2 linked regions of the Homo sapiens genome follow. The protein of the gene in region 1 interacts with the protein of each later gene in a pairwise test. Each region holds a gene or a part of one and is shown on either strand. Other genes may lie near its edges. The genes, in order: C18orf32 and SMO.

Region 1 (3,812 bases):
AGGCTAAGGTGAGAGGATCACTTCAGGACTGCAGGTCGAGGCCATAGAGAGCCGTGATCATGCTGCTGCACTCCAGCTTGAGTGACAGAGTGAGACCCTGTCTCAAAAACATAAATAAATAAAAATGATGTGCATATTTAAGAACAAATTAATTTTCAAAAAGTTGCTAGAAGGTTACACACAAAATCAACTGGGGCGGACTCTGGATGCACTGCCTATGAATTAGCCTTGCTCCACAAGGAGCAGCACTGTTCAGGAAAAGACTACTGTCTAACAAAAACAAACCATACAACAACAACAACAAAAAAACAATTGGTTACCTCTGTGGAGCTGGAATAAGGGAATGAGAGTTGAGAAAAAACATTCGCTTTTCATTTAGGATCCTCTTGCATTGTTGTACTGTAAATATCTGTTATTTTTATAATAGTATTTATACCTTAAAAAAGTTTATTTGCTAATGAGAATTTATCTTATCCCTCAGGTGGCTTTGGACAGAAAAGCTGAGACCTGCTGATTTACATGATTTATATCAAATAAAGCCCAAGGTAAATCAGTGACTTGACCAGCCACAGAACTTAATAGAGCCTGAGTTAGGACCCAGACTTCATTAGGGACCCAAGGGCAGGAGTTCCTTTTAATCTTTCCCAGCTTCAGAGTGAATACAAAAAATATATAAGGATGCATCTCATCATCTTTGAATATTTATAGGTCCCTACACTGAATTTTCAAAGCCCAAGATAAAAATCACATAGCGGCCCAGGTCCAGACCCAGGCCCAGCCAGCCATATGAGTGAGCCCAGAACAGCAAAGAACTGCCCAGTCGAGTCACTGCTGCTGAAAACCACTAAATTTTGGAGTGTCTTGTTACGCAACAATAGTAATTGTTGTCCCACCACTACACAGATGCCATCACAACATCCAAATTCTGCCTTCTGACGTGGTGAAAAATTTCCCTTTTGAATATTTCAATAGACTTTAAAAGAAAATGAACTACCAGTTAAACTGAATGTTTAATACATTTGTAGGAACAGAAGAAATGCAGTAAGGATTAAAATTTTATAATTAGACATTAATGTAACAGATGTTTCATTTTTCAAAGAAGTTTCCCCCTTTTCCCTATCTTTTTTTAATCTTCCTTAGAGCAATAAATAGTAATTACTATATTTGTGGACAAGCTGCTCCACTGTGTTGGACAGTAATTATTAAATCTTTATGTTTCACATCATTATTACCTCCCAAAATTCTACCTTCATTTCCCTGCACAGTTTCACTGGACTGTTTCACAACAAAATTGTACTCCACTCAAATTAGAAGAGCCCAAAGAAATTAGAGCAAACAGCAAATTCATATGAATTAGAGAACCAAAGATTTTAAAGTGCTGATTTAGTAACATAATGTCTACTGGCACAAACCTTCTATTTAATCATATTATTCAAACAGCAATAACAGAAATGAAAGCTACATTAACGAAAAAGGAACTTAGGAATGAGGTCATTAAATATAACTAACTACATTTTAAATACGGATATCATATATTTCCTGATTAGTATCAGGTAAATATCTAGACTCCTATCCTGAATTCCGGTCTCAGATAAAAAGGTCAGAGACAATTACAAGGAAGATGCTTCATATTATCAGGTCCATTTTTTAAATGATGGGGTCCTTTAGGAAAATTTCTTTAGTCTTTCTTTTTATCACAGATTTCTGTTGGTCCTTTTGTTGGTAATCCATTCATGTCTGCACCCTAAAATGAAAAAACATTTTAGAAATTATCATAACAAGCCGGGTGCGGTGGCTTATGCCTGTAATCCCAGCACTTTGGGAGGCTGAGGCAGGCAGATCACGAGGTCAGAAGATCGAGACCATCCTGGCTGACATGGTGAAACCCCGTCCCTACTAAAAATACAAAAATTAGCTGGGTATGGTAGCATGTGCCTATAATCCCAGCTACTCAGGAGGCTGAGGCAGGAGAATCGTTTGAACCTGGGAGACGGAAGTTGTGGTGAGCCAAGATTATGCCACTGCACTCTAGCCTGGTGACAAAGCGAGACTTCATCACAAAAACAAAAACAAAAAAAAAAAAAGAAAGAAATTATTACAACAAAAAGATATTAAGAGACATTCTGTCTCTCTCTTTTTTTTTTTTTTTGAGATGGAGTTTCATTCTTGTCACCCAGGCTGGAGTGCAATGATGTGATCTCGGCTCACTGAAACCTCTGCCACCCAGGTTCAAGCAATTCTCCCACCTCAGCCTCCTGAGTAGCTGAGATTACAGGTGCCCACCACCGCGCCTCACTAATTTTGGTATTTTTAGTAGAAACAGGATTTCACCATGTTGGTCAGGCTGGTCTCAAACTCCTGACCTCAGGTGATCAACCCATCTTGACCTCCCCAAGTGCTGGGATTACAGGCGTGAGCTACCGCGCCCAGCTCAAGAAACATTCTCTTTAAAAACAGACAAGCTCCAGAGTGAAAACATTTTGCTTCCAGAAACGGGCCGGATGGCTAAATTAGTGCAGCTGAGTACAAAGCTGAATCTAAAAAAGCACCAATTCTAAAGACAACAGAGTTGTCCACTCATTTTTAAAAAAATTGTTTTTTTTTTAAATCTCTATGATCCTTCTAATTAAATCTCTTATCAAAGTCATCAATCAGTGAAACTGGTTTGTATCAGCATAATCTCTCCTCATCCATTAGCTATTTACCATTGCACTTACCAGTCAGAAAATATGGTTATCATTTTGGCCAAAGGACAAATGCATTAATCAGAGGCCTACTTTAAAACTTTAATTTAAGCCAAATGTTACACAAACTATTGAAGCTTCTGGTTCTAAAACTTGTCCTTCCAAAATCTAGTGTTTCACCCAAGTACCACCCCCTTTCACTGCTCTTATTCAAGGCATGTGAATGTTCTTACCTTAAAGTTTACTTTGCCTTTGTTTGTATCATTGGATTCTTGTATTGCTTTCTTAGGCCATATACGACTAACGAAGGGGGAAACCAGAGGGTATATATATGGCTCCAGGAATTTTTTGTAGATCCAGAGCAGAACTGGAATGACGATACAAGGAATGCACACCATTTTCCCAAGCTTGAGCTCCTCAACTGTTGATATATGTGAAGAAAAAAATTAGTTCATCACAGATTAGTAACTGAAAGAATTTACCAAGATTAAGATATCTGAAAGGGGATAGATGTGGTGGCTCACGCCTGTAATCCCAGCACTTTGGGAGGCAAGAGGATAGCTTGAGCCCAGGAGTTTGAAACCAACTTGCACAACAAAGTGAGACCTTGTCTCTACAAGATCAAAAAATTAGCTGGGCATGGTGGCATACTCCTGTGGTCCCAGCTACATAAGTGGCTGGGACAAGAGGATCACTAGAGCCCAGGAGGTTGAGGCTGCAGTGAGCCGTGTTCATGCCACTGCTCTCCAGCCTGGATGACACAGAGACACTTTGTCTCAAAAAAAGAAAAAAAAAAAATATATATATATATATATATACACACACACACACACACACACACACACACACACGAAAGGACTATTTCTACAGTGTAGGAAAAACTTAAAACATACTATTATATTTGCTAAAAAAAAAAGACTTTATTAAATAAAAAGCTGCTATCTACAAGGTAAAGAAATAGGCCAGGTGCAGTGGCTCATGGCTGTAATCCCAGCACTTTGGGAGGCCAAGGCGGGTGGATCATGAGGTGAGGAGTTCGAGACCAGCCTGGCCAACATGGTGAAACCCTGTCTCTACTAAAAATACAAAAATCAGCGGGGTGTTGTGGCATGCGCCTGTAATCCCAGC
Region 2 (3,912 bases), on another chromosome or scaffold:
ACATCCACCTTACACTATGGTAATCTGCAGAGTTTTCAAAGCCACTGTTGTTTACACATGATTTCTGTCTAATGTGCTGTGCTGACTTTAGAACCTGATCCCCAAAAAGGATGCAGCTCTTCCTCATGGGTACCATGGATACCATCCTCCAAGTTCCTCCTCCAGCATCTGCACCAAGCCAGGAACCTTATGGCCTTGTCCAACATCTGACAAAGGCCGAGAACTTGTCAATGACAGGCGGCCTACATACACTCCCTACATTAGGGTCCTCACCAGCCCCCTGGGCAGAGCTAAGAGATGGGGTACCCCAGCCCTGTCAAAAGAGGGAGGCTCCCAGTTCTGCTCCTGGCTCCTGGTTTTCTTTTCTTTTTCCCAGGACAGTTTTAGAATCATACTGGCTAGAAGCGAGGGCTGATAAGGCCAGCTCCCTTCCTCAGCACCCTCCAAGCCTCATCTAGAAAAGTGACAGGTGGGGGAGAGTATACTCCACACTGCTAAGGAAGGACATTTGGGTTCAGTGTGCAGTTTTTCAGACTCTGCCACTCCAGTGAGGGGGCTTTGGGACTTCAAACCACCATGGAAGTGTCCACAGGCTCTCAACACTCCAGACTTAAGCGTCCTTCCACAGCCCTGACCAGCCTCGGTAACCAAATTTCCAAAGAAAACACAAATAACTGTTAGAAAGGTCTTATTCCTTCATAACCTCCTGCATGCGTCAGAGGGCCGGTTTTTCAGATGCACAAACTGAATGAAATCTCCCGTGAAAGCCAGACAAGATCACAGTTCTCTAGGCTTCATTCCTGTCTCCCAAATCAAGATTTCCAGAACTTTCTGGTTACCTTTTAATAATTCATCACTAGGGAGGTTTCTTTTCCTTCAAAACTTCACTCGATCATGTCCCCCTACCCTTCCCTCCAAATGTCTAAACCTCTTCCTCCGTCATCCCTCCCCTTTTCCTCTCCAACTCCAATTTCCCCAGGGTCTTCAACACCTCCTTGAATCCCCCGGCACCCTGCTTCCAGAATAGGTGGAGCATCTCCTCTTCTTACAAAATGTCTTTTCCCGTGGCTTAGAGCCACCTCCTCACGGGCCCCTCATCCCCGCCATCCTTTGCTCACCCACCAGCTCAGGCCCTTTGTGACCCGCTTCGTCAACTTCCTTGCCCTCCTTTTCCCATGACCGAGGGTCCCATCCTGCACGTAACCTGCCCCCAAAGTTTCGGGATCTGTCCCTCCAACTCTCCCGGGTGCTGTCCCCGCCCTCTCCAAAACTCAGGCCTGAGCCTGTTCTTTCCAAGGGTGCCCCCATCTTACCGCGGCACCTCCCGCCCCCCAGACCCGGCTCCGCCGCACTTACCCGACCAGAGCACGAGCTTGCCGTGCGCTTCCTCCTGGGAGTCCGAGTCTCCGGCCAGCAGTGTGGAGGTGGCCCCGTAGGGCAGCACCGAGCCCAGGCACACGTTGTAGCGCAGCGGCTCGCAGGGGGCAGCCCGGCCGCAGTGGCTCAGCGGCGGCGGAGGGCCAGTCACCGCCGCGCTCCTCCTCGCGCTCCCGCCCGCGCTCCGAGGCCCAGGCCCGGTCGCGTTCCCGCTCGAGGCCGCCCCCCGGCCCGGGTCCCCCAGCAGCAGCAGCAGCAGCAGCCCCAGGAGCGGGAGCTCCGGCCCCCGCGCTGGGCGGGCAGCGGCCATGGCCAACCCCGCCAACTCAGCAAAAGCCCCGGCGCCCCCGCCTGCTCCTCGGAGCCCCCCGGCCACACGCACGACCTCGGCGGCCGCGGAGGCGGCTCAGGCGACCTGTGCGCCCAGAGAATCCGGGCCCGGGCCCCCCCGGACGCTCCGCGCGCCCCGGCCCCTCGGCGCCCAACTTCGCAAACTTTGGAACCCGGGGCCCATGTTGGGCTGCGGAGGCCCGGAACGGGATGCACGACTCCCCAAGCCCTAGCCTCGCAATCCAAGTTGTCTTCAGCCCTAGGAGACCCCTGGGCCCCCAATCCCCAGCCCCATTCCCTCTCCCACCATTAAAGCCACCTCCCCGCCCCGCGAGGGAGGCCAGACGCGGGCCGGGGGTGCGAGTGCAGCTCCGGCTCCGCCCCCGCGCCAGCCCGCGGCCCAGCAGCCACCTTCGCCCCAGCGCGCCGCAGCCCCCCGAACTCTCCCCGCCGGCGACCCGGCTCCTTTGTTGCTCTAGCTCGCTGGGCTCTCTGGAATGCACGGGCCTCGCGGAGCCAAGCCCGGCCCCCCTGCGCCGAGGCTGGGGGAGGGACTGGACGAAGGAGCGGAGAGGTGGGGAGGGGAGGCGAGAGAGGAAGAGCGCGAGCGTCAGCGTCCCTGGCGCCTGGAGGGGCCCGGGCTAGGGGGATCTGGTGACCCCGCCTGCCGCCGCCCCGCGCCCGGGGGAAAGAGATGAGTGGAAATCGTGGGCCGGACCTGCAAGGAGAGACTCGGCGGGCACCTTGCTTGGTCTGAGGTCGTCTGCAGGAAGCGGACTTTTCTCCTGGCTCAGGATGGGAAAGACAGGGGATGCCTGAAGTCAACGGGGACTTCTGTTCCATCTCTGCCCCGTTCTCCAGGCCCGCCAGTTTTTCCTGCTTTGGTTAGATTTTCCAACGTATCCCGGGGCCCCATGGAGAAGAACCTGGGTTTGGGGTTTGCGCTTCTCCAAATCCTTCCAGCTCGGGACCTTTGAGAGAGACGACCTCAGAGTCACTCACGGCAGCTGCTCTGGCTGCTGTTACCTGCGGGAACAGGTGTCTGGGAAATAAACTTGCCAACATCAAGCCTTTACTGCTACAAATATGTGAAGTCTGAACTGTGGTTCCCAGGGACTGGCCTTGGTTATGTGAGAAGGAAACCAGTCCTTCTTTGATGGCCCTGCTGCTCATCTGCTCTGGGAGGTTTCTGCTGCTCCTCTTCCCCACTCTGCTCATTTTGCCTTTCCTCACTCCTTTGAGCATCACACTTTTGGTCACCACACTTAATTTCCCACTTCAGCAGTTTACACCTGCACAACCAAGTATAACCCAGCATAACCACAAGGCTCCAAACAGGAGAGTAGACTTGCACTGAGCAACTTTTTCCTTGTTGCTGATCGGGCTGCACACCAGGGTGGGTTTTCCTTTCTTACCCCTGGAAGACTTGCTCATGGCCTAGCGGTAGTGGACTAGTTCTGTTACTTTGGACAGTTTAAGTGCATATTAGTTATTGCACTTCAACTATATCAATTGGAGAGAGAGAGAGAATTTAATTCAATTTAGCAAGTCTTTCTGAAATTCCAGCATGTACATAGCACAGAGACATCCTGGAGGAACCTGTAGACTTCCATTTTCCTGTGGATACATGGCTTGCTCTCAGGAAACATAGCATGACAGAACAGCAACGTTCCCTCCTTCAGGTCAGGGACCTTATCTCATTCTCTTAGTGTTCACAAAACATCTAGTTCACTTGAGCATACATAGTAATCACTTGATAAATAAGCTGCCAAAATGAGATGTACCGTGAGTATGCTATAGGAATAGGGGACAGAGGTCAGTGTGGATAGAAGTGGAGGAGGTGGGTTTTGAATCCAGGACTAAAGTGTGAGTAGGAGGAGTTAGAATAAGGACATAGATAAGTAGGGAAACTGATTGGTAAGAAGCCTCAAATAACACACAGAATTAAGGGTCAATTCTCTTGATAGTAAGGAAATCTCAAAGTTTTGACTAGGGGAATGATATTAATCTTTACTGGTTAATATTAGGTGATATGGTTTGGATCTGCATCCCCACCCAATCTCATGTTGAATTGTAATCCTCAGTGTTGGAGGTGAGGCCTGGTGGGAGGTAACTGGATCACGGAGGCAGTTTCTCATGAATGGTTTAGCACCATCCTCCTCGTGCTGCTCTCACGATAATGAGTGAGTTCTCACGAGGATTGTT

Evidence for each region.
Region 2: the proteins of C18orf32 (region 1) and SMO interact in a two-hybrid assay, tested with the Homo sapiens proteins (one large-scale study listed by BioGRID and IntAct).

Annotation. Positions count from the first base shown.
Region 1 is NC_000018.10:49,480,667-49,484,478, forward strand, and holds part of C18orf32 (UPF0729 protein C18orf32), read right to left. Parts: intron 3,106-3,812; coding exon of another isoform or gene 3,083-3,105; coding exon 2,918-3,082; intron 1,745-2,917; coding exon 1,679-1,744; 3' UTR 1-1,678. Other genes in the region: RPL17-C18orf32 protein, read right to left, coding at 2,926-3,105. UniProt on the Homo sapiens protein: May activate the NF-kappa-B signaling pathway.
Region 2 is NC_000007.14:129,186,927-129,190,838, reverse strand, and holds the start of SMO (protein smoothened precursor), read right to left. Parts: upstream 2,207-3,912; 5' UTR 1,688-2,206; coding exon 1,357-1,687; intron 1-1,356. UniProt on the Homo sapiens protein: G protein-coupled receptor which associates with the patched protein (PTCH) to transduce hedgehog protein signaling. Binding of sonic hedgehog (SHH) to its receptor patched prevents inhibition of smoothened (SMO) by patched.